2 separate regions of the Homo sapiens genome follow, and region 2 is linked to region 1. Evidence: fine-mapped expression QTL. A gene starts in region 1. The other region holds a variant in brackets. All regions are shown on one strand. Distances are between the middles of the regions. Region 1 holds the start of MPRIP (myosin phosphatase Rho interacting protein). Region 2 overlaps MPRIP (myosin phosphatase Rho interacting protein).

Evidence for each region.
Region 2: its variant is fine-mapped to the expression of MPRIP in whole blood (TOPMed, PIP above 0.99).

The regions. Positions count from the first base shown.
Region 1 is chr17:17,033,971-17,050,994 of GRCh38, reverse strand. MPRIP (myosin phosphatase Rho interacting protein) reads right to left here and starts at 8,538. Exons shown (of 24, transcript NM_001364716.4): 1 at 8,024-8,538. The coding sequence starts at 8,146. It overlaps LOC124903938 (a long non-coding RNA gene), which reads left to right and starts at 8,670. Exons shown (of 3, transcript XR_007065644.1): 1 at 8,670-8,724; 2 at 9,087-9,214; 3 at 11,238-11,652. RefSeq lists silencers at 6,546-6,840, 8,514-8,973 and enhancers at 6,652-7,851, 14,336-14,395.
Region 2 is chr17:17,187,315-17,201,922 of GRCh38, reverse strand. MPRIP (myosin phosphatase Rho interacting protein) reads right to left here. Exons shown (of 24, transcript NM_001364716.4): 24 at 9,280-14,608. PLD6 (phospholipase D family member 6) reads left to right here. Exons shown (of 2, transcript NM_178836.4): 2 at 1-928. Among named protein-coding and RNA genes, the nearest start is that of PLD6, 12 kb to the left of the region's middle. RefSeq lists a silencer at 9,199-9,288 and enhancers at 9,459-10,124, 10,125-10,792. The variant G/A (reference allele first, on the strand shown) is at 6,384.

The DNA of each region.
Region 1 (17,024 bases):
TGGACTATAGTCCTTCTGTGTGGCAAGGGAAAGAGAAATCAGAGGAAAAGATCAGGTAACAGGCTAGAACCCAGGGAAAAAAGCTAGGGTGCAATTACATAATACTGGAACATTGCACGTCCAGTTTAGAGGGGGATACGCCAGCCTGCCCACCACGGCCCTCACCGGCTCCCCACAGGACAGGCCTGAGGCCCTGGCAAGGACCTTCCTCCCTTCTGCCCCTAAACTCTGCCTCTGGGCAGGGAGTGGGGATCAGAGCCCAGAAGAGAACTTCTAACACACCAAAAGAAGCCATCAAAGATGTGATAGTCAAAGAAAGAAACTTCAAAAGTTGGCAATAGACACCAAGGGCCAAGGAGGAGTGGGGACACAAACAGGAGTAACAAGTCCCAGAGAAGCAGCACTCCAGGAACCTTCCAACCCAAGGCCCAAGGGAGGGACGGAGGAAACTCACCACCACCTGTGGCACCCCAGGGCTGCCACCAGGACTGCGGGCAGCGGCCACACCACCAGGCTACTAAGCAGTGGGAAAGTGGCTCGTCTGAGCTGAAATGTGCTGTAACGTAAAATGCGCACGTCATAACTTTTTTGCATGGTGTAATGACAGTATTTTGGATATATCTGGTTAAATAAAACATAATTAAAATTAATTTCACCTCTTTTTTTTTTTTTTTTTTTTTGAGACGGAGTCTCACTCTATTGCCCAGGCTGGAGTGCAGTGGCGCAATCTCAGCTCACTGCAAGCTCCGCCTCCCGGGTTCACACCATTCTCCTGCCTCAGCCTCCTGAGTAGCTGGGACTACAGGCGCCCACCACCACGCCCGATTAATTTTTTGTATTTTTAGTAGAGACAGGGTTTCACCGTGGTCTCGATCTCCTGACCTCGTGATCCACCCGCCTCGGCCTCCCAAAGTGCTGGGATTGCAGGCGTGAGCCACTGTGCCCGGCCCCGACTAATTTATTGTATTTTTAGTAGAGACGGGTTTCACTGTGTTAGCCAGGATGGTCTTGATCTCCTGACCTCGTGATCCGCCCGTCTCGGCCTCCCAAAGTGCTGAAATTACAGGCGTGAGCCACTGCACCCGGCCCCTCTTTTTACTTTTTTAACGTAGCCGCTGGAAAATTTAAAATTTCCTATGTGGCTTCCATTACAGTTCTAGAGGACAGGGCTGGTCTGAGGGGTGGCACACTGTGCCCCTGTGCCAAATTGGCCCACCAGCTGCTTTTCTAAGACCCCAAAACCAAGAATGGCTTTTACATTTTTAAGTGGCTATATCCTACACAACCTCCTCGATTTTGCCTGTTGGCCTGCAAAACCTAAAATATACAAGATTTCTTTTGAGTAAAAGGCTCCGGGATTTGATGAAAGCTTGAAAACCACCGACCTGGTCCAACTGTGTCATTCAGGTGGGAAAGAGTGGCTTGGGGAAGGAGTTCCCCAGGATAAAAGAAGAGTCCTTTATAAAAAAAATTGCCAAGCCTTGGTCTAGACTCTAGAAACAATCAGATATTCACTCCAGGTGACACAAGGAGCAGAAGGCAGGTGTGTGTGTGTGAGAGAGCGATTCTTGTACAGACAGTCCCTGACTTATAATTTTGACTTTGTGATAGGTCTGATGGGTTTTACCTGGATGTACCCCCACCATAAGTCCCATCATAAGTCAAGAAGCATTTGGAAGTGAACAATTCAGGGGCATTTAGTACATTTCACAAGGCTGTGCAACCAGCACTTTTATCTAGTTCCAAAACATTTCATCACCCCCAAAATAGAACCCCAGTCTCATTAGCAGTCATTCCACATTGCCCACCCAACCCTCAGGCTCTGGCAACAACCGATCTGCTTTCTGTTTCTACAGATTTACCTGTTTTGGACATTTTACATAAATGGAATCACACAGTATGTGACACATGACCTTTCATGTCTGCCTCTTAGCGCAATGTTTTCTAGGTTCGTCCATGTTGTGGCATGTCTCAGTACTTCGCTCCTTCTTAGAACTGAATGATATTCCATGGTATGGATACACTATGATTTGCTTATCTACGCATTAGTGGATGGACACTTGGATTGTTGCTGCCGTTTGGCTATTGTGAGTAGTGCTGTTATGAACATTTGTATACAAGTATCTGTTTGAATACACCTGTCCTCAATTCTTCTTGGCATATACCTAGAAGTGGGAATGCTGGCTCACGTGGTAGGTTTTATGCTGAACTTTTTGAGAAACCCCCAAACTGTTTCCACAGCAGCTACACCATTTCATTCCCACCAGCAACGTGCAAGAGTTATAACTTCTTCACATCCTCGCCAACATGTTATATTCTTATTTTTTTAATTCTAGCCATCCTGACAGGTATGAAGTGATATCTCACTGTGGTTTCAATTTGGGTTTCGCTGATGACAACGCTGAGCATTTGTCATGGTGCTTGGCCGTCTGAAATGGGATTTTGTGTGTCTGAGATTTTTGACACGCTCCCTGCCAAGCAACACACCAACTCCTGTTACAGATCTTCTACAAGGGGGGGATGCGAAATCTCCCCGTTGTTTCTGAGATACACATTAAGTCAAATCAGGAAGTCCTATGCCTTAGAACTTCTACGAATGTCTACAGGAACAAAGGGAAACCTGATGAAATGCTTCCCTGAGACCTCGTCCTGGCCCACACCCTCTATGTCTGAAATTCCCACCTGAGGCCCCCGCAGCTTTGGAGCCTTGGCAGTGGGGTATGGGCACAGCAAGGGCAGAATCACACCAGGAAGACTAAGAACCCTGGGAGAGATCAAGACCGAGCTCATTTCCAGATGGGAAAACAGGCCTGAGCAATGAAAATGACCCAGCCAAGGTCCCACAAAAAAACAGGGCTAGACAAAGAAGTAGAAACAGGCTTGCAGGCTCCTTCCACAGAGGCAATGCCTGAAGTTACACAGTCAGCAGGAGAAAGAGACATCACCCCCAGATCAACACGCGGATGTAGAAGCTGAGCACCCTGGGTTCCAGACCTGCTTCTCCCACTAATGCCCACCCCTCTGATTCACCTCCCAGCCTCTGCACCTGCTCCCCTTTTGCCTGCCCACTACATGGGGGCTTCCTAGGCTGGTTCCTCTCCTTTCACTCTATGCAGCCTCCTGAGTGCTCACACTCACTCCCATGATTTCAGCAACCACCTCCACATCCAAGACTTAAGAATTCCAACCCAGCCTCCCTCTACGTCCATAAGGGTCAAACTTACCATATTATTTTTTACCCCTCCCCATCCCCCAAGTTTACTCCAAATCTGTTCTTCTCAATCTCTGTTAAAGGTACTTCTAACTACCCCAGGTTCCTCAACACCCACCTCTGATCAACCAACAACATCCTGTCCCTAGAGTCTGATTCCTTCCATCCTCACCAGCACTGATCTGGAGAGAATGCCTTGATTGTAATTTACCCAGTTTAATAGCCTCCAGTAGATCTTCTGCCTTTAACCAGAATTATTTTCCTAAAAAACAAGTCTGATAGATTAAAAAGCTAAGTATAAAAATAGCTATAAAAGAATATGAGAAATTATTTTACAAATCTTGGAAAGTAGGCCTTAAACATGACATTAAAACTACAAACTATTAAAAAAAAAGACCAACTGCATTTATATTATGAAAAAGAAAAATAACCACACAAAAAAGACAAGTGGCATTCTGGGAAAAAATACCTGCAATACGTGGCAAGCATCGGATTAATATCTAGTTCAGGGTCAGCAAACTATGGCTCACAGGCCACACATCATGCCAGCTGCCTGTTTTTGTAAATAAAGTTTTTTAAATTTATTATTATTATTACTTTTTTGAGAAGGAGTCTCACTTTGTTGCCCAGGCTGCAGTGCTGTGGCACGATCTTGGCTCAATGCAACCTCTGCCTCCTGGGTTCAAGCAATTCTCGTGCCTCAGCCTCCCAAGGAGTAGCTGGGATTACAGGCATGTGCCACCACACCCAGCTAGTTTTTGTATTTTTAGTAGAGACAGAGTTTCACCATGTTGGCCAGGCTGGTCTTGAACTCCTGACCTCAGATCATCCACCCACCTCAGCCTCCCTAAGTGCTGGGATTACAGGCATGAGCCACTGCGCCCTGCCGGTAAATAAAGTTTTACTGGAACACAGTAACTCATTCGAACTCATTCGTTAATGTGTTGTCTACGGCTGCCTTTGTGATGAGACGGCAAAGTCTGCACAGTTGTGACAGAGACCATATAGCCCACAGACACTAAATTATATTTACTATTTGGCCTTTTACCAAAAAAGTTTGCAGACCCCTGACCTAAAGCACTTATAGAAAGCTCCTACAAATCAACTGGGGGAAAAACTAACCTTACAGAAAAATGGGCAAGCAATACGAACAGGCAATCCACAAAAGAAACAAAAATACTCAGTAAATACTATAAAAAAGGCTCAACTTCATGAGTAATTAGGAAAATTATTAGAGAATTAAATCATTTGATAATATCCAGTCCTGGAAATGTTATCACACAGCCTTTTTTGGAAGGCAATTTCGTGGTATCTGAAAAAAAAAATTTATGCGCTTGATGTCAACCCAGCCATTCTATTTATAGGTATCTGCCCCCAGAGAAATACTTGCATTCATGCATGCACGCACACACACCCAGAAGTATTTATAAGACTCTTTGCCGAAACATTCACTGTATGTAACAGCAAAACCCATAAGCAACCTTGATGTCTATCAATAAGGAAACGGGTTAAATTATAGTACACTCCTAAAGGCCTAATATGCAAAATGGTTCTGGCATCTTTATATGCAACACCATGAAAAGAACGTAAAGATATGCTGATAAGCAGAAAACAAAAAATATGTCGCAGAGCAAATACATGCACACAGTTCAGGATAAAAAGGTTTAACTGTATATTTGAGCTGGGCACAGTGACTCACGCCTGTAATCCCGGCACTTTGGGAGGCCGAGGCAGGCGGATCACGAGGTCAGGAGATCAAGACCATCCTGGCTAACACAGTGAAACCTCGTCTCTACTAAAAATACAAAAAATTAGCCAGGCATGGTGGCGGGTGCCTGTAGTCCCAGCTACTCGGGAGGCTGAGGCAGAAGAATGGCATGAACCTGGGAGGCGTAGCTTGCAGTGAGCTCAGATCGCGCCACTGCACACCAGCCTGGGCAACAGAGCGAGACTCCGCCTCAAAAAAAAAAAAAAAACTGTATATTTGGGTCCGTATGTCGCTGAGAAATGCACAGGAAAACTGGAGGATAAATGACACTCTGTGAACAGGGGCCTGGAACAAGTAATAAAGGACGGTCACTTATCACTTATCCCAGATTACTCCAAATTTCCGTGAGGAGGAAAAGGCAAAGAACTCCACTGCTCCAAGCCAGCATTCTCAAGGCACCTCCTGCAACATAACTATCCCTGACATTATTGTCCTCATCATGTGCTCATGGTGTGGCCACTGTAGACCCTGAACAGGAGTAGGGGAACTAACATTGGCTTCAGAATCCTGGCTCCATCCCTGAACTGGGCAAGTCACTTCCCTTCTCTGGGTTTCAATCTTCTCACCGGTAAGAGGAAGTGGTTACATTAGCTGATCTCCAAGTCCCTTCCAGGTCTGATGCCATAATACAGTCCCTGCAAGAGGTTTCTGTGCCTCTCTAGGGGAAAAACAAACAAACAAAACCCACAGCTGAGGAAATAAACCTCAAACCAAAAGGCTCAGAGAAATGTCTGCTCCTGGGAAGATGACATCTCCAGAGCAAAAGCCGGCCAAGGCTGCCCACCACCTCCCTGGGCCCAGTATCCTCTCCTCTTAAGGAGGGAGTGGCCTCGATGGTGGCTGATGTATCTTCCAGCTTTGACGGTCTAAAATAAGCTCCAGGCTGGGAGGGGCAGCAGGAAGCAGGGGCTTGGGGGAGACTGATGGGAACCGATTGGTTGAGGTTTTCTAATGGAGCCATAAGGATGAGAGTGAGAGGGAGGGCCGGATGCAGAGAGCAGCAGAGAAGGCTGTTGGCAACAGCCCTGAGTCTCCCTCCTCTCTTTTCAAGAGCAGTTTCTTCCTGAAAGATCCCAGGAGGTAGAATGCTGGGCTAACCTCTCCCAGCACAAATAACCCCACTCATTATTTCAGAAACTACCATTCCAGTTGTGCCCTGAAGGTCTCAGGCCTGTTTCAAAACCCACAATTCAACTTTGAATACAGTGAGAGTACAGTATTTTAAGTTTGCCTCTCCCCGTGAATCCAATTAATAATCAACAGATTAAAAAAAATCTTAGCAGATTGGACTCAAACATGCAGATTCCATCCTAGTTTATCTAAGCTTAAGAATTCGAAAACAGCCCCTATGAGGTGTAAATTTACCAATTTTGACAGTTGCTTAGAATAACCAGGAAACTTACAAACCTCTCTCAGAACAACCCTTGCCCAGAAACTTCTTAAAGTGGCAGGTTTTTTTGGTTTGTTAAATTGTAAGAGAAAAAAGTTTCATAAAATATCATTTCTTGCTTTTCACAAATGCTCAGTGAAGGAGGTAAGCCAGGGACCAGGATTCCCAATTTACAGATAAGGAAATTAAAAGATACAGAAGTAAAGGGATTTGTTCAAGGTCACACAGCTGGAAGTGACAGCCAAGACCTGAAGCAAAGTCTCCTAACAACTCCTCATCGCATAAACTGTTTCATCCAAAAAAGCATCCAGATGAGAAGAAGGAATCAAGTTCTCCTTTACACTCCAAAACACCCTCCGAGGTAAATGAGTTCTATCCGTCCCAAGCTGACCGTCCTTAAAACCCTTGGTATCTTAACCATCTATGACTTTGCAGCCTTGAGTGTTTCGTTAAGCTTTTGGGGTTTAGATGAAAGGAATCTTTTCCTGGCAGTTGGAAACCTGACCTCAGAGAAAGGCCCCGTGCCCCAGGCCGTAACCCCTGCCCCACCACCCTACTCCAGTCGGCCATGTAAACAAGTCAAACCCTGGGTGCACTGAAGTGGCATTAAAAACAACCAGGCCCGTTCACTCGTTTTCAGTCTAAGGGGTTCTTCTGCGACAGGAGTGGCTACAACTAGGTCACACTGGACTGGAATGTGAAGGGACTTCCCCTGGCTTCATTCAGGAGGCTGAGAGAAAGCTCTGAAGAGGATGGAGATGATGGCCGTGGGGAGGGTACCGAGGCACATCCCAAGGAGGTGCACACAAGGCTCGGAATCCTGGAACACTAGGAGTTCAAACAGCAATCACTGCAGGGGTTCCCAAGGGCCATGGGGGCTGCAGCCAAGCCTCTTGGAGCCTTTCATCAATACAAATTCCCCATCTCCCCAGTCACTCCAGGGCGGGGGCCCCAGAACTCTGTGTTTAATGGCTATGACTCTAATGCACGTTTGGGAGTCATAACTAGTTCAAAGCCCTGTTTGACAGTTAAGGCTGGGAGACAGAAATCAACTTTCCCGAGGACCCACAGGTCTCCTCACCCCTCGGCCAGTGACCAGGGAACTGGTCCCAGCTCCCCGCTAAACTACGGCCTGCCAAACTAAGTTCAAGAACAAGACCCTCCTCGCCAGATTTGGACACCCCTTCACCTCTCTCCAGTGCTTGACAGTGACGATGATTCAGAATCGGGGCAGGCTGCGTCCCACTAGACGGAAGCCCACAGTCCTCCCCAACAATCCGACCCCTGGGCCACTCTGGCTGGACAAATCCAAGTCCAGTCCCAAGCCAGAATCTCAGGGGGGTCCCGTCAAGCGGCATGCAATCCCTAAGCGCTTTGTTCCTACTAAGCGAAACCAGGCACTTTTGAGTCACCCAAAAAGCATGAATCACACAGCCGGGCAATGGGAACGGGAAAGGATGTTATTTTTCGGCATACTCGAGGATTTTCCCTTTGTCCCAGCTCTGTCAATGCACTTCCCGTCCCCGTCCCCATGCCCCAGGACTCGCGCATTTCCCTGCTCCATTTTTATTTTCCCTGCAGCCCTTGGCGGCGCCCCGGCCGCCGACCCGCGGCTCCCAGAACGGAGGTGTCCGGGCCGGCCCCAGTCGCTCACCTGCGTCAGGTCCTCGTCGTTGAGCAGATGCGACTCGCGGGGCTTGAAGCAGTTCTGACACTTGCTCTTGTTGAAGATGTTGGCCTGGAATTTCCTGCACGGGTTCTCCTTGGCTGCCGACATGGTCGGCGCGGCGGCGACGGCGGCGGCGGCGGCGGCGCAGGCCTGGCCGGCCTGGCGCTCCCGGCGGGCTAGGGGCTCAGCGCGGCCGCGCCGCATCCCTCGCCGGCCCCGCCGCAGGCCCGGCCCGGCCTCCTTCCCGGCGGGCGGTTCGCTGCACGCGCCGAGGCTCCTGAGCCGCCCGGGCCTCACAGCGCGCGCGACGCCCAGCTCCCGCCCGCACCGCCGCCGCCCGGCCGCCGCGGGCCCATGGACGCGGCCTCGGGCCCGCTGCTTCCCGCTGCGGCCCGCCTCTCAGGCTCCGGTCGCCGCCGTCCCGGCTCGTCCGCGCCGCCGCAGCTGCCCTCGGCGCCCCGCGGCCGCTGCAAATGGGACCGGAGCGCCTCACGCACTACGGGGGCGGGCGGGCGGGCGGGCGGGCGGGCGGCCGGGCGCGGGGAGGTGCCGGGGCGTACGGGGCGGGGCCGCGCCCGACGCGATCGGCAGCCCCACCGGCCAATGGGGTTGGCGCGCTCTCGCTAACAAAGGAACCTCTGGGCCAATGGCAGTCGGGGGCGGGACCGAGGGCCGCCGAGCGCAAGGTAAGTTGTGCAGGCCGGGAAGGTGGGGGCGCCGGCATGGGACGTTCAGGTTTGGTGGACTGGCGCCGAGGCCGGCCGGGCTGACAGCTGCAGGGCCCGGGCGGGGGATGCGGGGGAAGGCGGAGCCGACCTCAGGCTGCCTCTCTGCAACCCCCTCGCTCCCAGGCTCGCCTTCCCGCGCCCACGCTGTACACCCAACGGAGGCATCTTCCCCAAGCCCAGCTCGGAGAGGATTAGTTTAGCACCTACTGTGTACCAGGCCCCCTCGTAGGAGTCAGTTAGCGTCGGGAAGGGCTGGATACTCCAAGGGCTCGCTCATTAAAGGTTCGCAACCTCTCCTTTCTCATCCCCATTTTACATAGGAGGAGACTGAGGAGCAGAGAAGTAACAGCGGGTAGTATTTCAAGGGATGACTAAGAGAAGATGTCAGCGGACTTGAAGAGCTGTCAGCTCCATTAGGGGAGATGAGCGAAGGCTGACTCTCTGCCAGGTGCTGAGCTAGGCATTCTTTCCCCCATGATGTGCTTGAGGAAATGAAGGGTCAGACACCTGGAGTAATTTGTGTAGGATCACTCTGCTAGGAAGGGGCCGAGCTGTCACTCCCGTCCTCCATTGTCCAGCCTCCTGGCCAAAAGACAACCTGGAAAAGGCTGTCAAAGGCTCAGGCAGAAGGTTGCAGGAGCCCAGAGAGGGGAGAAATGCGCTCTTTAGAAAAATTCGGGTGGCTTCAAGGAGGAGGGGAAGTTTAAGTGGACAGTGAGAGGGTTGAGTGTGGCTGGAAGTGGAGATAGGGGAAGAAGGAGCAAGAGGGATTGGAAGAGGGCTCTATCACCCAGGCCTTGTATTCCAAGCCCAGGCGTGCACATGTCATCCCACTGGCAGCTGGGAGTCATGGTGAGTCTTTAAACAGGGGGGTGAGCTAACCCAGCCTTCACGGAGGAGGTGACATTGGAGCATGTGGTAGTGGCAGCCACAGCAGCTGTCGCTCAGGGAATGGAGGAGGTTTTAGGAGGAGAAGTAGCAAATGCTTCCAGAGCTGTGTACTTTTCCACGGATCATCTGGTAAATATCCCAGGGAGGTGGATTTCAACTTAGTGTAAGAAAATGCTTTTCCTCAAAAGGGAGCTGTGGGAAGGCAGATCAAAGTCCTTTGGCAGCCTAAGGGGGAAAGCCCAGCTCCACCAGGCAGGAGCTCTGTGGCCTCGGGCAAGTCCCTTAACCTGCCTGGTGCCTCAGTGACCTCATGTACAAAATTGGCATTAATTAATTAATGTGAACATTAAATGATATAATGCTTGTTAAGTAGCATAATGTTAATTGGTGAATCTAGGCAAAAGGTGTTTATTGTACTATTCTTTTTTTTTTTTTTTTTTTTTTTTTTTTTTGAGACGGAGTCTCGCTCTGTCGCCCAGGCTGGAGTGCAGTGGCGGGATCTCGGCTCACTGCAAGCTCCGCCTCCCGGGTTCACACCATTCTCCTGCCTCAGCCTCCCGAGTAGCTGGGACTACAGGCGCCCGCCACTACGCCCGGCTAATTTTTTGTATTTTTAGTAGAGACGGGGTTTCACCGTTTTAGCCGGGATGGTCTCGATCTCCTGACCTCGTGATCCGCCCGCCTCGGCCTCCCAAAGTGCTGGGATTACAGGCGTGAGCCACCGCGCCCGGCCTTATTGTACTATTCTTGCAACTTTTCTGTTGCTTTAAATTTTTGCAAAATAAAAAAGGGACGGAAGACTGACAATTCTGCCCTGCAGAGAATACTCAGAAACTGATAGAAGAGGTGGCCACTGGGGAGGGGAGCTGGGTGGTTGAGAGGTGACCTACTTTTAATTTTCATTGCAATCCCTTTTGTTTCTGCTGAATTTAGTATTGTCTGCATGTACAACTTGTTTAAAAATATATATATACATACATATATATATATATATATATATATATTTTCTTTCTTGATGTCCTGCCCATTCCTCAAGGCCACCTCCCTTAAAGTGCTCAGCATGTTCTGCTCAGGTCAGTAGGCACATCCAGCACCTGCACTGGACTGGAGGGGTCCACAGTAGGGGCGCAAAGAAGAGTTTCATTCAGCAACTCAGAGGCAGCCTGCCCGGCAGGAGCCCACACTCAAGCAAGTGGAGACAAACAGAAACAGGAGACAGAGAAGTTCAATCCGGGGTGTTGTGGGGGCCCACACAGGGGCACCCAGCCCCGTAGGCAGCTTCAGGGAAGGCTCCTGGAGGAGGCAATGCCTAGGCCGAGTCTGGAGCTGAGTAAGACCCAGCCAGAGAAGGTGAAGGGAAAGACACGTCAAACTGGGGCACCAATTATAGAGTCTCAGGCCTTGAAACCAAAGGGTGTGTTCATGAACAGAAGCAGCTTTCTATCACTGGGTAGTTCAGAGAGGCAGGAGTGACCAGCATTGAGAGGCACTGGGAGGAGTAGTGGATGGTGCAAGCCTAGCCTCTTCAGGGAGACAGGTATGGTTTTTGTTGTTAATACTATTTCATCTCCATTTTATAGAAGACACACACGAGGCTCAGGACATATCAGGAACTTGCCTGTGGTCACAATTATAGATCCTACAAGTGAAGATTTGAGCCCACACAGGCCAGCACCGGAGCTGCCTGGGCCAGGGGCAGTCATCAATTTTGAATTTTTTTCGGCTGAGCACTTAGGTAAGGGCTGCTGATCTGGAGAATGAATCAGGGGCAAGGACTGAGAGAGCTGCAGAGGAGAGAGGGTAGCAGCCTGACTAGGATAGGGTCAGTGGGAGGCAAGGGAATGAATTTGGAAAATGTTTAGGAGGTAGAATCAATTAGTTGCGCTCCTCTCCAAAACCCTCACGGTAGAGTGGGGTCTTGGTTGCTACTCCATTTCCCCTGTCTAGTTCAGTGCCTGGCATAGAGCAGGGGCTCAAAAACACCCCATGGGGGTGCAGTGGCTCACACCTGTAGTCCCAGCACTTTGGGAGGCCGAGGCGGGCGGATCATGAGATCAGGAGTTCGAGACCATCCTGGCTAACACAGTGAAACCCTGTCTCTACTAAATATACAAAAAATTAGCCAGGCTTGGTGGCAGGCGCCTGTAGTCCCAGCTACTAGGGAGGCTGAGGCAGGATAATGGCATGAACCCGGGAGGCGGAGCTTGCAGTGAGCCGAGATCGTGCCACTGCACTCCAGCCTGGGCGACAGAGTGAGACTCTGTCTCAAAAAACAAAACAAACAAGAAAAACACCCCATGGGTGAATGGATGAAAAGTCATCGTTCCACCTTGTATTGTAATATCTCCTCCACCAGATTATGAAATCCATACCGACACAGTCTGTGTCTCATAACCTTGGCTTCCCTTTCCAGGGGCCTAGAACAGCACTTTGCATGAAGTTCAATACTCAGTGTAAACATGTAAAGATTCACTGGGCTGTATGCTTTTTTCACTGCATTGTGTACACCTCAATGTATATTGTTTATCTCAAAAAAGCAAATAAGCAAGCAAGCAAGAAAAGGCCGCTCAGGTGAGCCCCAAATGCAGGTAAGTCTTGATTTGTGGCTCTGACTGCCATCCTGGGAAGTTTTCCCTGTGTCCTGTTAGGGAGCAGAATTTACACACAGATACCCAGAGGTAACCACTATTTTGATCTCCATCACCATAGATGAGTGGAATCCGCTGCGAGCTATGCCTGGCTCTTCTCATTCAACAGTATGCCTGTGAAATTCAATCCACACGGCTACTGTATATATCAGTACTTCATTCTTTTTCATTGCTGCCTGGTAGTCCCTTGTGTGGAAATACTACAATTTATCTGTCCATGTTCCCGTGGATAGACATTCAGGATGTTTCCAGTTTGGGGCCATTATGAATAATGCTACGAGTATCTTCGTGCTTGTCTTTGGTGGACATAAGCACTTCTTTCTTTTTTTTTTTTTTTTTTGTTTGAGATGGAGTCTCGCTCTTTCGCCCAGGCTGGAGTGCAGTGGCACGATCTTGGCTCACTGCAAGCTCCGCCTCCTGGGTTCAGGCCATTCTCCTGCCTCAGCCTTCTGAGTAGCTGGGACTACAGGCACTCGCCATCACGCCCGGCTAATTTTTTTTGTATTTTTTTAGTAGAGACGGGGTTTCACTGTGTGAGGATGGTCTCGATCTCCTGACCTCGTGATCTGCCTGCCTCGGCCTCCCAAAGTGCTGGGATTACAGGCATGAGCCACCGCGCCCGGCCAAGCACTTATTTCTATTGGGAATACCCAAGACTAGGGATGGCTAAGTTTTGGGAAGTGAATGTTTAACCTGATGGGAAACTGCCAAGCAGTTCTCCACACCTGAGAGCTGGGCTCTCATCTCGCCCTTTTTCTGCTAATCATTGATAATAAAATTCATCTGGAGGAATGTGTGAATGCTACAGGTTTCCAGGGCCTCCCATGGAATTGTGTATCTGTTGGAGTGCACGAATCTATTTTGTCATTGCTATTGAGACAGGGTCTTACTCTGTCGCCCAGGAGTGCAGTGGTGTGATCTGGGCTCACTGCAGCTTTGACCTCCCAGGCCCAAGTGATCCTCCTACCTCAGCTTCCCAAGTAGCTGGGACTACAGGAGTGTGCCACCTTGCTTGCTAATTTTCCTGTAGAGACAGGGTCTCACTATGTTGCCCAGGCTGGTCTCGAACTCCTGGGCTCAAGAGATCCTCCTGCTTCAGCCTTCCAAAGTGCTGGGATTACAGATATGAGTCACTGTGCCCAGCCGAAGAATCTGTTTTTAAAATATTTCTGCTAGGCAAGTTTTGGAAATAGTGGGTGGAGCTGTGGTTCTCAAATCCTGGAGGATTAAAAAAATTCCTACTCTGGAGGCTGGGCGCGGTGGCTCAGGCCTGTAATCCCAGCACTTTGGGAGGCCGAGGCAGGTGGATCACTTGAGGCCAGGAGTTCGAGACCAGCTTGGCCAACATGGCAAAACTCATCTCTACTAAAAATACAAAAATTAGCTAGGCATCATGGTGCAGGCCAGTAATCCCAGCTACTAGGGTGGCTTGAACCTGGGAGACAGAGGTTGCAGTAAGCCGAGATTGTGCCACAGTGCTACTACAGCCTGAGTGACAGAGCTAGACTCTGTCTCAGAAAAAAAAAAAAAAAAGGATTCCTATTCTGGTCCATTTCCAGATATTCTGATTTAATTGGTGTCTGTAAAGGCTACTTGGAGGATTCTCATAACCACACAGGAGTTGGAACCACTGGATAAAGGAGGGTGGAAAGGCGAAGGCTCTGGTGTGGTGTGTCTCAGCCAGCTATTGCTGCAGAACCACCCCACCCCACAAAGCAGAGTGGCTTGAGCACTATTTTCTTGTCTCTCTGGTTCTGAGAGTGGACTGGGCTCTGCCCGGCAGTCCTGCTGGTCTTGCTTGCTGTAAGTGTGGCTGCATGGTAGCTGGGTGAGGTCACTGGAGGCTGGACTGAGACAGGGCTGGCTGGACCTTCGTCCTTTCCTTGCAGCCTCAGAGCCTCTCCTTTCCCCATGGCTTCCCCTTCTGCTCTGCGTGCAGCACCTCAGTGTTCCCCAGAGCAAAGAAGCAGAAGTACCCATCCTCCTTAATGCCAGGCCTGGCACTCGACCGCATGCCATTAGTCAGCACACGGCACAGGATGTCCCAGACTCGAGGTGGGGGGCCCACAGAGGCGTCAGCCCCAGGAGACGTGGTTCACTGGGGCCACCATTGAGACTAGCTACCATAAATAGTAGCCATGTCATACGAGTATTGTGAGGACTAAAGAAATTTATATATGTGACGTGCTTAGAACAGTCCCTGAAACACGGTGTGAGCTCAAGAACTATCAGCATGTATTAGTATGCCTATAACCCCTATGCCAGGGGTTGGCAGATTTTTTCTGTAAAGGGCCAGATACTAAATATTTTAGCCTTGTCAGGCCATATGGTCTCTGTCGAAACTACTCAGCTTTGATATTGTCAAGTGCAAGCATCCATAGACATTACATAATGAAGGGGCGCAGCTGTGTTACAATCAAACTTTATTTAAGTAGTAAGTGGCGGGCTGGATTAGGCTGTTTCTTGGGTCCCCTCTTTTCCTGTTGCTCGGGCCTCCCTCTCCTGGACAGTCTCTCTGAAATGTTGGTCTCCCTGTCCCAGACAGCACCTGTCAGCATTCAAGAATTCACAACCATCGAGCACTGACAGTGTGCCAGGCTGTGTGCCGTGTGCTGGGCATTCGTCACGTCGAATCTCACTAAGTCCAGCTGTCATCATTTGAAATTAGCTCTGGCAGCGCTGGTGGTGTCTGATGGGAGTCCTTAGTGCCCACCCCCCATCATCCATCAATCCCCTGAAAGCCACCCCAAATAAATATATACTTTGTTAATGTAGCTTCAAGAAAAATCTCCTAACCCCTTTCCAGTTGCCACCCCAGAATTAGTATTATCCTCAGCTTACAGATGAGAAAACTGAGGCACGGACAAGGCAAGTATTCAAGGTCATACAACAGTAAATGGTAAGCCTGGGATTCAGACATGGGCAGTATCTTCGTGAGCACTGCTCTACACAACCTCCAGCCCAGGGAGCTGCACGTGGCCCTGACAGCATCGGGGGCTGGGCCCCACCCTTCCCTGGAAGCAAGACCACAAGATCTCGGAGGCCCTTTCCAGCTGTGACGCCATGAGGCTTTTCTACAGCAGGCACCAAATGACAATAGTCTCCAGATGTGCACTAGGAGAGAATGTAGTGCACTTGACACAGAAAGTCCACCAGAAGGGCAAGTTGGACATGTTATTTAAATTTTAAGTCTGTGACCACTTTGACATAGTGATTCCACTTCTAGAAAGATAGGTTGTAAAATTGCTCACACAGGTACACAGATATTATGTACAAGGATGTTCATTCCATCATTGTTCTTAATAGCAAAAATTGGAGATACTCCAATTGTCTATCATTAGAGGATCGGATGAATAAATTATGGCTCTTTGATACAGGGGAGTACCATGGGGCTAGTTGTTAAAGACTGAGATAGTGTTGACGTGGCCATCCATCTCAAAATATGGTGAAGTGAAAAGCTGTTGGAGAAATGGTGTGCATTGTAGTAGCTCATCCTTGTTTTAAGAGTGTGTGTGTTAGCAATATTCACAGTTAGTGTTTACATGGAGAAGGTCAGGGGCACATACACCTAACCGTTCATTGCAGTTAACCCTGGGAGGTGAAAGAATGGGGACTCACACTTAAGCTAGAGATTTATATCATGTTTAAAATTTTTAATAAAAGCTTTTGTTTTCTTACTAATATAGAGAAAATCATATAATGAAGGTGGATGTATCCATTACCCAGCTTCCATATCAACTCAGGACAAGTCTTGTTTCAACCATACTCCCTCATCTACTGTGTGTGTCTGTAAAAGATAAGAACTATTTTCAAAAAGTAGCCACAATACCATTATCATACCTAAAAAAACAATAATTCTTTAATATCATTAAATGCCCAGTGAGTGATTTCCAGTTATCTCCTAAAAACAGAAATTATTTTTGTAATAAGAAAAAAAAGGCTGAAAAAGATAAAATTGTCAATCCAAAGAGCAGATTAGTACAAGTTTCCTGGAGCTTTGTTTAGTGATACTTATCAAGAGCCTTAACAATGTGCTTACCTTTTGCCCTAGTAATCCCAACCTGTGAATTTATTCTAAGAAGAAAAAAGAACATTGAAGAGGTATACAAACATTGTTCACTAGAGTGTGCAGTGTCTGTTACAGAGAAGTTGTTTGAAAACTATTTGTTGAGGCCAGATGTGGTGGCTTACATCTGTAATACTAGTACTTTGGGAGACTGAGGCAGGAGGATTGCTTGAGGCCAGGAGTTCCAGACCAGCCTGAGCAACATAGCAATACCCCATCTCTACAAAAACATTTTTTAAAAATTAGCCAGGCATGGTGGCTCATGCCCATAATTCTAACTACTTGGGAGGCCAAGACAGGAGGGTTGCTTGAACCTAGGATTTCAAGGCTATAGTGAGCTGTGATCACATCACTAAAACTCCAGCCTGGATGACAGAGCAAGACCCTATCTCAAAAGAAAAAAAAACAAACCACAATTTTTTTTGAATTTGAAGTTGAGCTCCTGCTGTGGTTTGCAGCTTTGTTTGTAAAAGAAAAGCTGAAAGTCATGGAAGTGTGTGACATTAGGGTACTGGCTAAATAAATGAGGGCAGATCCATAAAATGAAACATTGTTCTGTCATGTAAAATCAGATTCTAATAATACACATAGATAACCACCGCTTCCAAGAGGCAGAACTTCATCCTCATCCTCTAATGGACTATGGAAAGAAG
Region 2 (14,608 bases), 150 kb before region 1:
CCTCTGCCTCCTGGGTTCAAACGATTGTCCTGCCTCAGCCTCCCGAGTAGCTGGGATTACAGGTGCCTGCCACAACACCTGGCTGATTTTTTTTTTGGTATTTTTAGTAGAGACAGGGTTTCACCATGTTGGTTAGGCTGGTCTCAAACTCCTGACCTCAAGTGATCCACCACTTCCGCCTCCCAAAGTGCTGGGATTACAGGTGTGAGCCGCCATGCCCGGCCGGGCTTTTAACTTTTAATGTCCTAATGTTAAGGTAATTTTGTTGTGTGTTTAGAAGTGACCTTACCTTTAACACCTGTGGAGTTAGTGCGTGCACATTGCTGGCTCAGCGTAACCCATCACGGGACCGGAGGAGAGGAGAGCGGGGAAGAGGAGAGCAGCTTCAGGCCGTGGTGTCTCCCACGTCTGTGTTCTTATTTGCAGCTCAGGGTTTGCATTCCCAGGTAGAACAGGTGTCGTACACTGTGAAATGTTCCAGGTTATTTGTTTATAATGTGTGTGTCATATACAGATAGCTCCGATGACATCTGAAGTTGTGACTTCATCATCTTGTCATATTTCTGTATGATGAGCCCCAGGGCCCATCCTGAGGTCTGCTAGCCATGTGCTTAGTCTCACCTCCCCAGCCCACGCTGGCATTACCACCCAGAGACCCTTCAGTGCTGTGTGTTTTTCCTTTTTAGGGTTACTTTTGACTCACAGTGTTAGGCAAGCCAGCTTGGAAGTTAACTTTTAAAAAAATTCAATTGAAGCTGTAAAGTATAATATATAGATTGGAAGTCACCAGAAATTGTTTTAGTTTGTGAATTCCCCCAGTGTATGTTCTGAAAAGAAAATGGGAGAGCTTGTAAAGCATCTCCTAAATGCGAAGCCGCGTGACCCTGGACTTCTGGCACATCTGAATAAACATGTTCTTATTCTGGAATGTGAGCGCTGGGTGTCTTTGCCTTAGCTTGCTGCTAAATCATTCAAGTAGGGGCTCCTCTTTGTTAAATATAATTTTGCGGGGGGGGGCAGTATACAGCTATTTAGAAACTGTTGGTCAAAGAACAGGAGACTCAAAGAGGAGTAAAACTTTAAGCTGTTATTTGGGTGAAGGAAATAAGGTATACGGTGGTCCATTTTTAAGACAAAGTGCCTTGAATCGGCTTCGGTCAGCAAACTACGGAAGAAACGGGTTGTACTAGGCCCCTCAGGCTAGCCGATGCCTTATCGGCTTCCCCGCCTGCCCCCTTCCCCCTTCCTTGGTTGCCCTCACCCGAACCAAAAAAGTTTAAAATGAAAGTTTACTGGCCTGCAAAATAGCTCGCTTTGTCTCTTCCTACCAGCTGGCCTAGCTACTTAGGTCATAAGTCAAATACTTGAAGAGCCCCTAAGCAGACTAAGATTGCAATGCACTGTGGGCTGTAACAAAATGCAGCAAGACAACCCTAAAAAAAAAATACCTAAAGCCCCCGCCTAACAACCAATAAGCAATGTCTGGGAAGATTGTAACCCCATAGTACTCAGCCTGTAAGGAAGGAGCCTGCACACTGGGGGATAAATTGCTTGTTGAAACTGTGCTGGGTGTGCCTGCTCATCAGACACCCGATCTTGGAAGACGTTATTAAAAGTATAGAAGATCCTTGGCCCACACGTAAAGACTGCTGTGCCAGTAACAGGCAGGCATGCCCAGGAGACCCTAGAACTGCACGCCGGCCTCTGCTCCAACACCTGAGGCGAGTGATGCTAGAAGGCAGGGGCTCGCTGAAGATGAGGGCTGGGGAGGGGGTTGTGTAGTGTGTGTGTCACCTGAAGCCTCTTTTTGCCTACAAGATTGTCTTGGCTCCTCTCAGAGAGAAACTTTAAAAGAAGTAATAAATTTGCCAAGTAGGCTCAGCAGTCACAAAAGAGGCTCTAGGAAGATTCCCCTCTAATTGCCCTCGTCTCCTGGGATGAGCTTTCATCAGCTTAGTGGTTTGGATTCAATGTTGTTAACTATGCGGGCAGTGATACAGCTTGAAAACGGTGAAACCCCATCTCTACTAAAAATACAAAAATTAGCCGGGCGTGGTGTCGGGCGCCTATAGTCCCAGCTGCTCGGGAGGCTGAGGCAGAATGGTGTGAACCCGGGAGGCCCAGCTTGCAGTGAGCCGAGATCGCCTGGGAGACACAGAGCGAGACTCCGTCTCAAAAAAAGAAAAAAGATCGGTCTGGGCAACATGGCAAAACTCCGTCTCTACTAAAAATACAAAAATTAGCTGGGTGTGGTGGTGTGTACCTGTAATCCCAGCTACTCGGGAGGCTGAAAAAGGAGAATTGCTTGAACCCGGGAGGTGGGGGCTGCAGTGAGCCAAGCTCACACCACTGCACTCCAGCCTGGGTGACAGAGCTTGACTCTGTCTCAAAACAAACAAAAAATTCTGATAGTACCATATGCCCTTAACAGTCTGCCCACACTGTTGAATATTCCTAGGTTGTTGGAATGAACCAATGCAATGATGCCATATTTTAAAGCACTATGTTGGTTCTATAGGGTTTTTGTTTTCTTTTGAGACGGAGTTTTCGCTCTTGTCACCCAGGCTGGAGTGTAATGGTGCAATCTTGGCTCACTGCAACCTCCGCCTCCCGGGTTCAAGCGATTCTCCTGCCTCAGCCTCCTGAGTAGCTGGGATTACAGGCGTGTGCCACCACCAAGTCCAGCTAATTTTTTTTTTTTTTTTCTTGGTAGAGACGGGGTTTTGCCACGTTGGCCAGGCTTGTCTTGAACTCCCGACCTCAGGTGATCCACCTGCCTCGGCCTCCCAAAGTGCTGGGATTACAGGCATGAGCCACCACGCTCAGCCAGTTCTATAGGTTTTTAAAGCAACCCACAATTTTTTTTTTTTTTTTTGAGACAGAGTCTCTCTCTGTCGCCCAGGCTGGAGTGCAATGGCGCGATCTCAGCTCACGGCAACCTCCGCCTCTCGGGTTCAAGTGATTATCCTGCCTCAGCCTCCTGAGTAGCTGGGATTACAGGCGCCCACAACTACGCCCGGCTAATTTTTGTATTTTTAGTAGAGACGGGTTTTCACTATGTTGGCCAGGCTGGTCTCGAACTCCTAATGTCATAATCTGCCCACCTCGGCCTCCCAAAGTGCTGGGATTACCAGTGTGAGCCACTGTGCCGGGCCCAATTTTTTTTTTTTAGTCTGATCCAACAGAGTATATTCATGTCAATTTCAGTTTACAATCCTTGCAGTCCCATCAGTTTGTGAGATTATGCCCAGGTCATCCACACTGGAGGTCTGAAAATGTTCTTAGTTGTACTCTAGTTTCACTAGCTGCATAGTTTTCTGGGATAGTCTCAGTCACTTGAATCCTTTAAAGATGAAGCCCAAAGAACCATGGAGATGACTTTAGAGGCATTAACAATGAGCAGCAGAGGCAGCCCTGGGTGGATCCCATCTGGTGTCACTGGGAGTGACATGCCTGAGAGACATCCTACTTTGGGTCCAAGTGGAGGTGCTGACTCAGGGCAGCTGCTACAGTGTGGCTACTAGAGGATCCTTCTCCAGTCTCAGAAATTGAAGCTGAGAATGGACCATTTTCAGAAATTTCATCATGAAGATCCTTACACTCAAAATCTTAAGGTGGCTGGGCACGGTGGCTCATGCCTGTAATCCCAGCACTTTGGGAGGCCAAGGCGGGCAGATCACGAGGTCAGGAGATCGAGACCATCCTGGCTAACATGGTGAAACCCCGTCTCTACTAAAAATACAAAAAATTAGCCGGGCATGGTGGCGGGTGCCTGTAGTCCCAGCTACTCGGGAGGCTGAGGCAGAAGAATGGCATGAACCCGGGAGGCGGAGCTTGCAGTGAGCCGAGATGGTGCCACTACACTCCAGCCTGGGCGACAGAGCGAGACTTCGTCTCAAAAAAAAAAAAAAAAAAAAAAAAAAATCTTAAGGTGATGATGGGTTTCCACATGACTCTTTTCAAGACCACAGCCGACGCCTTTAAAATCATGACTGGCTTATGTGTCGACATGTATTCTCACACTCAAATTTCAGAATAAGGCATGAGGTGGATGTATGTGATGGCACCAACTCTGCTTTCTCTTTTCTAGTGACCACTCAGGCCCTGCCTGCACCTATTCTTACTCATTTTAGGGCTCCATCCATTACTCTGAGCCTTCAACCTGCAGCTCTGCTTTTCGCTGTCTGCAGATGCTGAAGAAAGGCGTCACTAAAGGCCTCGGGCTGCTGGCTGCGATCAGCACCGATGGGAGCTGCCAGGATCCAACCCAGTTTTTAAAAACACACTTGATCAAGATTCACATACCATAAAATCTGCACATTAAAAGCATGAGATTCAGTAGTGGGTTTTAGTATATTAACAAAGTTGTGTAACCATCACCCCAAAAAGAAACACTGTTCCAGTAGTAGTCACTCCCCACTCCGTACTACCCTCCAGCTCCTGGCAATCACTAGTCTACTTTGTCTCACAGATTTGCCTACTCTGGGCATTTCATAGAAATGGAATCCTCTCTGCAGCCTTTTGTCTCTGCCATCTTCACCTCGCGTCATGCTTCAAGGGAATCTGTGCTGCAGCATGTTTCAGCACCTCATTTCTTAGTTTGGCTGAATAACATTCCATTGTATGGATAACAAATTTTGTTTGCCCATTCATTCGTTGGTGGGAATTTGGGTTATTTCTATCTTTTGGCTGTTATGAATAATGCTGCTATAAACATTTGTGTACAAGTGTTTGCACAGACATGTTTTCATTTCTTTAGTATACACCTAGGAGTGAAATTATTGGGTCATATAACACTATTTAACCATTTGAGAAACTGCTAGACTTTTTCCAAAATGGAAGTATCATTTTATATTCCCACCAGCAGTGAATGAGGGTTCCTTTTCCTCCACATCCTTGCCAACATATGGCATGATCTAACTTTCTGATCATAGCCCTTCTAGTGGGTATGGTGTCTCATTGTGGTTTTGACTTGCATTTCTAATGACTTAAGATGATGAATGTCTTTTCATGAGCTTATTGGCCATTTGTATGTCATCTTTGAAGAAATGTCTATTCAAATCCTTTGCCCATTTTTTTGGGTTGTCTTTTTATTGTTGAGTTTTAAGAGTTCTTTGTATATGTTCTGGATATAAGAATCCCTTAACAGATACATAATTTGCAAGCTGGGGACAGTGGCCAACGCCTGTAATCCCAACACTTTAGGAGGTCGAGGCAGGAGGAATGCTTGACCTCAGGAGTTCGAGACTAGCTTGGACAACATAGCAAGATCTTGTCTCTACCAAAAATAAAAAATAAAAAAAATAAAAATAAGATTAGCTGGGCATAGTGGCACACTCCTGTAGTCTGAGCTACTCAGGAGGCTGAGGTGGGAGGATCGCTTGAGCCTGGGAAATTGAGGCTGCACTCCCGCCTGGGCAACAGAGCGAGACTCTATCTCAAAGAAAAGAAAAAGTCATTTGCAAATGTTTCCCTTCTTTGGGTAATAGGTGTTGATGGAATTGTTTGCAGCATGTAAGCTTTTGATTTTGGTATAATCTATTAATATTTTTACAGTTGTTGCTTGTGCTTTGGTGTCATAGCTAAGAAACCATTGCCCAACCCAAGGTCACAAAGATTTGCTCCTATGTTTTTTTCTGTCATATATATAATTTTTTTCTTTTTGAGACAGTCTCACTCTATTGCCCAGGCTGGAGTGCAGTGGTGCAATCTCAACTCACTGCAACCTCCGCCTTCCAGGTTCAAGCGATTCTCCTGCCTCAGCCTCCCAAGTTGCTGGGACTAGAGGCGCCCACCATCACGCCCAGCTAATGTTTGTATTTTTAGTACGGATGGGGTTTTGCTAGGCTTGGTTTCGAACTCCTGACCTCAAGTAATCTGCCTGCCTCGGCTTCCCAAAATGTTGGGATTACAGGCGTGAGCCACTGCACCCGGCCATTCTTGTATATTATATTCCTATCACTCATACTTAGGTCTGTGATCCGTTTTGAGTTAATTTTTGTGTATGGTGCAAGGTAGGAGGCCCAACTTCATTTTCTTTTGCATGTGGATGTCTAGTTGTCCCAGTACCATTTGTTGAAAAGGTTATTGTTTCCTCACTGAATGGTCTGGGCATTATTGTTGAAAATCAATTGACTGTAAATGTAAGAACGCTTTTTCTGAACTCGCAATTCTGTTTCACTGATTTATCAATATCTCTCTTTATGCCAAGACCACACTGTTTGTTTGTTTTTTTGAGACAGAGTCTAGCTCTATAGCCCAGGCTGGAGTGCACTGATGCAATCTTGGTTCACTGGAACCTCTGCCTACTGGGATCAAGCGATTCTTGTGCCTCAGCCTCCCAAGTAGCTGGGACTACAGGCATATGCCACCACGCCTGGCTA[G/A]TTTTTGTATTTTTAGTAGAGACAGGGTTTCCCCATATTGGCCAGGCTGGTCTCGAACTCCTGACCTTGTGATCTGCCTGCCTCAGCCTCCCAAAGTGCTAAGATTACAGGTGTGAGCCACTGCGCCCGGCCTTTTTTTTTTTTTCTTTTTTTTGAGACAGATTCTCGCTCTGTCGCCAGGCTGTTATGAAACAGTGTTGGATTTTCAAATGCCAACTGATTTTAAAAATTGCATTTACATAGCTTTACAAAAATAGCGTATGTTAAAACCATAGGAGGCCAGGAGCGGTGGTGCATGCATGTAATCTCAGCACTTTGGGAGGGTGAGGCAGGTGGATCACTTGAGATCAGGAGTTTGAGACCAGCTTGACCAACATGGTGAAACCCCATCTCTACTAAAAATACAAAAAAATTAGCCAGGTATGGCAGTGTGCTCCTGCAGCCCCAGCTACTCAGGAGGCTGAGATGGGAGAATCACTTGAACCCGGGGGGTGGGTGGTGGTGGAGGCTGCAGTGAGCTGAGATCCCGCCACTGCACTCCTGCCTGGGTGACACAGTGAGACTCCATCTCAAAAAAAAAAAAAAAAAAAAAAAAATTAGACAACTGGAATAGCAGACTGAAAATGTGTATCTTTTTATGCCTGTACTTAACTTTTTTTGGCTATGTTTTATACATTTCTTGACTTTTTGTTTTGTTTTTTTGAGACAGAGTCTCACTCTGTAGTCCAGGCTAGAATGCAGTGGCGCGATCTCAGTCACTGCAACCTCTGCCCCCCATGCTCGAGTGATTCTCTCACCTCAGCCTCCCCAGTAGCTGGGATTACAAGTGTGTACCGCCATGCCCAGCTAATTTTTGTATTTTTAGTAGAGATGGGGTTTCACCATGTTGGTCAGGCTGGTCTTGAACTCCTGACCTCAAGTGATCCACCTGCCTCGGCCTCCCAAAGTGGTGGGATTACAGGCGTAAGCCACCATACCTGGCCTCTTAAATTGATTTATTGGTAGAATCAACTTTTTTTCAATGTTATCTGGATAAAAGTTTAGATTCCCACAAATTTCACCCATTTCATTCTAAAGGTTGTGAATATATTGTTTAAAAAACCCAGTTTTTCTTTTTTGAGACAGGGTCTTGCTCTGTTGCCCAGGTTGGCAGTGCAGTGGCACGATCTAGGCTCACAGTAACCCCCACCTCCTGGGTTCAAGCAATTCTTGTGCCTCAGCCTCCTGAGTAGCTGGGATTACAGGTAGGCGCACACCACCATGCCTGGCTAATTTTTGTATTTTTAGTAGAGACAGGGTTTCCCCATGTTGGCCAGGCTGGTCTTGAACTCCTGTCTTGAAGTGATCCACCTGCCTCAGCCTCCCAAAGTGCTGGGATTACAGGCATGAGCCACTGCGCCCAACCTAAAAATCCCAGTTGTTTGTTATTTAAAATTTATTTAGTGGGTCACAATCAGAATTTTTAAAAGTGAACGAAATCATCAAAGTATATATAGTAAGGGTGCATTATTTTGTTAAATTTCAGGTTGTTGGCGTGTGTGTATATTGGGTCATGATGTAAAATGCAGTTTCTTTTTTAAGCAAAAGGTAAAATTTTATTGTAAATAAATCTATTAATAAGAGGGACAGGGATGGGGAATTACAAGACCTTGATTAATAAAAGCATCACCACCATTAGCACTTCTCGTTGTCCCTTTAGCCCCTGAAGGCTTCTTTAACTGGGGCAGTGTACCTTAATTAGATTCTGCATGTAAAGTATTTCTTACAATGGCTTGTGTGTGAACAGGTAAAATCCAAATTTTTATGTGAACTACCGTAATTCTAAAATGCTGAAAACTGGCCAGGCACAGTGGTTCACACCTGTAATCCCAGCACTTTGGGAGGCCAAGGCAGGTGATCACCTGAGGTCAGGAGTTCGAGACCAGCCTGGGCAACATGGTGAAACCCCATCTCTACTAAACACACACACACACACACACACACACAAGCCAGGTGTGGTGGTGCATGCCTGTAATCCCAGCTACTTGGGAGGCTGAGGCGCGAGAATCGCTTGAACTTGGGAGACGGAGGTTGTAGTGAGCTGAGATCGCGCTACTGCACTCCAGCCCGGGCAACAGAGCAAGACTCTGTCTCAAAAAAGAAAAAAAAAAAAAATCCACTGTAATTCAAAAGGAGGTAATCAGGCCCTGGCACTGTGTTCATGCCTGTAATCTCAGCAATTTGGGAGGCAAAGGTGGGAGGACTGCTTGAGTCCAGGAGTTCGACACCAGCCTTGGCCACACAGGGAAACCCCGTCTCTACAAAAAATGCAAAATTAATTGGGTGTGGTGGTGCATGCCTGTAGTCCCAGCTAGTTGGGAGGCTGAGGTGGGAGAATCTCTTGAGCCTAGGAGGCAGAGGCTGCAGTGAACCAAGATCATGCCATTGCACTCTAACCTGGGTGACAGAGTGAGACCCTGCTCCAAAAAAAATAAATAAAATAAAATAAAGGCCGGGCACGGTGGCTCACACCTGTAATCCCAGCACTTTAAGAAGCCAAGGCGGGCGGATCATGAGATGGAGAGCATCCTGGCTAACACGGTGAAACCCCGTCTCTATTAAAAATACAAAAAATTAGTTGGGCGTGGTGGCGTGCCCCTGTAGTCCCAGCTACTTGGGAGGCTGAGGCAGGAGAATCACTTGAACCCCGGGGGCAGAGGTTGCAGTGAGCCGAGATCCTGCCACTGCACTCCAGCCTGGGCAACAGAGTGAGACTGTCTCAAAAAAAAGGAGGTAATGAAACTGAAATCAACCCACTCTAGAGCTGGAGGCTACTGTTCAGTTTGCCTTTTGACCTGCGTGCTTATTTTGCAGATGTCTCTCAACTAAACAAAATCTCATTACACAGCATGCAAAGGGTGATGCAAAAATAGTTTATTATGATATAGTTTATGTAAAGTTAGGTAATATTTACAAAATAAAAATGATCAGCTACATCCAGGGAATCTAGCATGTCACACAAAGGAATAAATATTCTGACAAAGTAACACTTCAATTGTAGTGAATCGTTGATCACAAACTAACTTTGTAAAAAAAAAAAAAGCCTCAAGACGCCCCTCCCCCCCCCCCCCCCAAAAAAAAAGCAGCAGCTCAGCTGGTCAGGCTTTCTTGAGACACTGGCCTGACAGTGGATGGCCCACCCTACCCCGGGGCTCTACTTCTTAGACCCGAGCGCTGTGCTGGAACCTAGGGAGGCGGTACTCATTCAGCCCTTTCTTCTGCACACAGCTTTTAGTCTGTTTGTTAAGCGTTACCACTTAGCATTAGAACAGAAATGAAACACCAGTTGGAATTATACAAGCTGCTTCTTTTCATCATGTGACAGAACGTTTGTGAGAACTGCTGGAATCACAAGCTGCGGCAGAGGTGACTGAAGCATTTCCACTCCGTTCACATATAGCGCCCCAGCTTGGCACAGTAGGTTTTGCCTTTGATAACGAATTTTGACACTGACCCTGACAGAAGGGCACAGCTGTGAGAAAAATCATTAAGAATTGTAATTGTTGAGGAGCCACTTGGATGCTTTCTACCTTTTATAAATTGTACCCTAGGAAAACCACATGAAGTAATTCTTATACTTAACTGGTTTTGAATCCTAACAGTATGTCAGTAGATACGTTGTTAATACTAAAGGTAAATCCTAAAATCCTTTAAAATCCATTTTAATTGAAGCTTGTGATATAAATGTAACACAGTAGTGAACTGAGTGTTCTTCACAATCTATTCCTAGCTGTCTATAAAACTAAGGATGTGACACCACTAACTTCTCAAGGGCAGTGGGGGGCAGGGAGTGATGGGCGTGACCGTGAGGCTGCCAGCGCTGTGTGTGTGGCTGCGCCTCCGAAACACCCTTTCCTCAGGTGGCCGAGCTGCGCCTGGGGAAGGCCCCCACTGAGGCTGTGCCCGAGGAACATGCCGTGTCCACCCCTTGGGACTTGGACGTCCTCTCAGGCCATCCTACATTACTGGAGTCTCCAATTCTTAAGTATTCTGTGACTCAGTGTTTCCTTACCAATCTGACAAAAATAGGTGCTGTAAAAAACAGCTGCATCTAAGTTCTGCAGCCTCCACGGAATTCCAGGATATGACCAAAGGGCTGGGGAATCCAAACAGCTCCAGTGCTCCACAGAGCCCTGCCCAGTGAGTGGTCTTGAAGGTTCTCAGAAACTGCACATTTAGACCCTGATCCCAGAACTGTGCCTTCAACCAAGTCTCCCTAGGATAGCGTTAAATTACTGTGCAGAAGTCTGGTCAAGATGGCACCATCATTTTCTTAATTTTCCTGATTTTCCTTAAGGACTCTGGCTCTACCAAGAAGAGGCAATAGAGAATTCTTTCAATGAAACAATGTATGGATACAGGGCTATCGTTATTTTGGATATTGTACACTTTAAAACCATCTGTTAGATGACCAAACGTTTTACAAAGATGCAGCAGTCATTAAAAACATTTCCTTATAATGCTGGGCGGGCTTCAACGGTGCAGTCAACCCTGTTCTCCCCATCTTAAAAAGGGGTGTCTAAGATTTTTTTAAAAACCCATACAAACTCTGTCACAAAAATCCCTGCAGTAACTTCTCAGTAATATTTACATTGCTTGCTCTAAATAATATACAGGTTATTTTGAAGAAAATAAACACAGCTGCTTTTAAATACAGAGAAATTGCAAGCTACACCAAGCATGCAGTAGCTTAAGTATTCACAAAGTACTGCATCCGAACACCTAAGGACTCGGACCCAAGACGTGTTCAGACAGAAACTTGCCCCATCTCTAGGGATGATCTAGTGTTGAGCTACTGACTCCCCTACCCTGCCAAGAGCCTTTTCTTTTGTTGAAGGATTTCAGAGAAGGGAGATGTCTTCCCTTTACAGAGAAGCAAGAATACTTGAAGCTCACAGTTCTGAAAAGGGCAAAAGAATGAACAGGGTCTTGTCCCTGGCAGACAAAATTTGAGATAACTGATAATGTTCCTTTCCATGCTGGGTTTATGCCAGGCTTTCCTTTTAAAGAGCCTACAGCACGGTATTACTAGCCTTCAGCTCAGGCTGGTTCTTAACTGCCCATCAGCTGTGGACACATGCCCTTGCTGAAAGCTGTTTGGCCCAAATGTGTAAACACAAGAACTGTACAAAGGTAAAACGAAGAGCCCCCTCTAAGGGGTGGCTGCAGAACAACCTGCCGTAGCTGCTGTGCAAGGAAGAACGGCCATCTCAGAACGTTCTGTTGCTTGGCATTGAGAACAGTGGTGGCCTTCACCTTTCGATGTGAAGATGACCGTTCACTGGATGAAAAATCTACTGAGTTTACATCTTTAAAGTGGGTGGTGGCATGGAGAAGCCAGGGGAAGGAAGAAGTGTGCTTGTATATGGCACCTCCAAGCCTGAAGTCCGTGGAAAACCCACGTTCAGCTGCTATTACCTACTGGAGACGCTCGCGCTGAGCGGGCTAGGAACCTCTCTAGAGAAGAATGCTGGAGGGCAGGAAAGCCCAGGAAGGTGAAAGGTGCGAAAACAGTGGGTAGATACCTTAATTCTAAGGAACTTTTTAATAAGCAAGTTCCCAGCAGCTTTCTTCCCAAGTCCTTTTAGAAAGTGGGCTCTTTTGCCAGCACTGAGAACCTTCGCTCACTTCAGCTGAAAGGAGAAAACACAGGGCTGATCCCAGCTTGCAGGGAAGGGGAAACGAAACGTTGTCTCTGGCCTGTGTCACCTCTTAGTGCTCCAACAGGGACCTTAGGGCAAGTTACAACTTGTTTAGAAAGCAAATTCCTTGTACAACAGACCTATGGCTCCCCTAGCCAGGACTTTTATCTCATGCCCTAAAACGAATGAAGTTCCCAGGAAAGTGAAGCTTCTCATCAACATGACAAATTTTCTTTAAAATTTCAACATCAAATTCCTTTGAAGTATAATATCATACATTTCCATTCTTTATAGAACTTTGACAATACTTAATTTCTTTCTCCCTTAGTGACAAAGGGGTCACAGTTTTTTTTTTTTACCGTATCTTATAGGCCAGGCGTGGTGGCTCACGCCTGTAATCCCAGCACTTTGGGAGGCCGAGACAGGCGGATCACGAGGTCAGGAAATCGAGACCATCCTGACCAACATGGTGAAACCCCGTCTCTACTAAAAATACAAAAAAATTAGCCAGGCGTGGCGGCAGACACCTGTAGTCCCAGCTACTCGGGAGGCTGAGGCAGGAGAATGGCATGAACCTGGGAGGCAGAGGTTGCAGTGAGCCGAGATCATGCCACTACACTCCAGCCTGGACAACAGAGCGAGACTCTGTCTTGAAAACAAAAAACAAAAAACAACCCCCCTCCACCCAAAAAAACCCCCACTATATCTTATAAAGGAAAGTCTTATAAATTCCAAGCTTCTTTAGGACCATGTTAGGCAAACTCTTCTTTTCAGGAAAAGTTAATGTTGATGTGTCACATTCTTTTCTAAGTGCGAACTGTCTTAGAACTTACCCAAGTCAGTGAATGAGTAGCTGGGAGAAAGGGGTATGTGGCCAGCCATTAAAGTCACCCAACATACAAAGGAGCAGGGGCCAGCAGAGCTTCCCCTACACCCCAAATTAGGCTGCAGGTCATATGCAAAACCTAGGAGGCCAAACAGGATTACTTGTTTGTGTAGGGACCTGGCTGCCAACAGGGACCCCACACAGGGTGGCCTTGGCCTCCAGGGCCCTGCAACACCTAGCGGGCTCTGCTGTGTCCCAGCTCCGTGGCACCCGGCAGCCTCCCAGGAGACAGCCAGGCAGGAGTGATGATCAGGATTGTGTTCAGTTTTCAGCATGTTTCCATGTACCCAAAAGTTAAGAGTCCCATCTACCTCTATAGTAAAACAAAATGATAGTAAATACATTCCATAAAAATGTTTTTCAAGCCATCAGTTTTGTTTCCGGCCTTATCTGTCAGTATTCCTTTCAGGCACATTCTGAGATTCACAACTGTGTTCTTTAAACAGCCAAAATTCCCTCTTCTCCAGCATGAGCTGGAGGGTCAAGGGGTGATGGGAGCTGGTGGCTGCTGCAGAAACAGGTTCTTGCTGGGCCTTCCAACTCACTAAGCAGGCTGTGGGGCCTTGCTCTCCATGCTCTTCTGCCTTCATACTTGCTGAATCCGAAGGCAAGATCCTCTCCGATGTTACCTCTTGTTCAATAAACCTGCAAATTCGCGATACTGCCACCTCTAGTCGCCCTGGGATGTCCACTGCATCACCCACTTAGCACAGGCCCATTATGACTCCCTGAAGCACAGGCTTCCAGCTCAGAGGGCAGCGCACTGTCTCCACCCCTGCCCAATGATCCACTCAGACCCGGGAGGCTGTGGACAGCGCGTCCTCTGAAATGCTGGTCTCCACACCTGCCTGGGGCTGGGGCACCATGGGTGGATAAAGAAACTGACCAGCAGAAAGTGACTATTCTGCACGTGCAGGCGTGCACACAAGGTAATTACCCACAAGCCTGCAGAAACTCACACGAGCACAACTGCCTCGCTTTCCCATTCATATGTGTGGCACAGCTTACTGGCTGGTGCTAGCATACTACACATAAATACATTTATAGGAAAATAATTAAAATGCTGAAGTCTATCTATTTGAACTTCTTCCTCATCGGTAAAGCTGGGAAAGCTCACTACTGTGTAGCTGGTGCCAAGGAGCAGCCTGAGACCCCGCCTGCAGCTGTCCCTAAGACTTTCCTCTCCCCATACAGAAACCAGTTCTACTTCTTCACTGTTCTTCTTTCTTCCCTCTGGAATTCAGGGGTTAAATCCCTTCCAGGGTATTTGGATGCCTGCAGGAAGGAAACTGGAGAGAGGGCCCAGCCCTGTGCAGCACAAGGCTCCCTGCTCAGTGTGGCACCAGTTGGGCAGCCGTCAACATCTGTGCCAGTGTTGCCACCTGGGCAAGTCTCTGTTCCTGGGGCATGTCCAGGTGCAACATGAAGAACATCGTCATCCTTTCTCGCCTGGTTCACTCCATCGCAGGATGGAGCCCACCAGCAGGGAACCCAGACTTCCTTGACCCAGATGGTGGCTGTCCCTGTATGAGGGCTCTTCAGAAACGCCAGGACAGGCCCAGGGCATTTTCAGGAGCTCTTAGCAAAGCAGCCTCAGTCCGTTTCCTGGCAATACCCTACACTAAACCAGCCTCTGGGGAGAGACCTGTGGCAGGGAG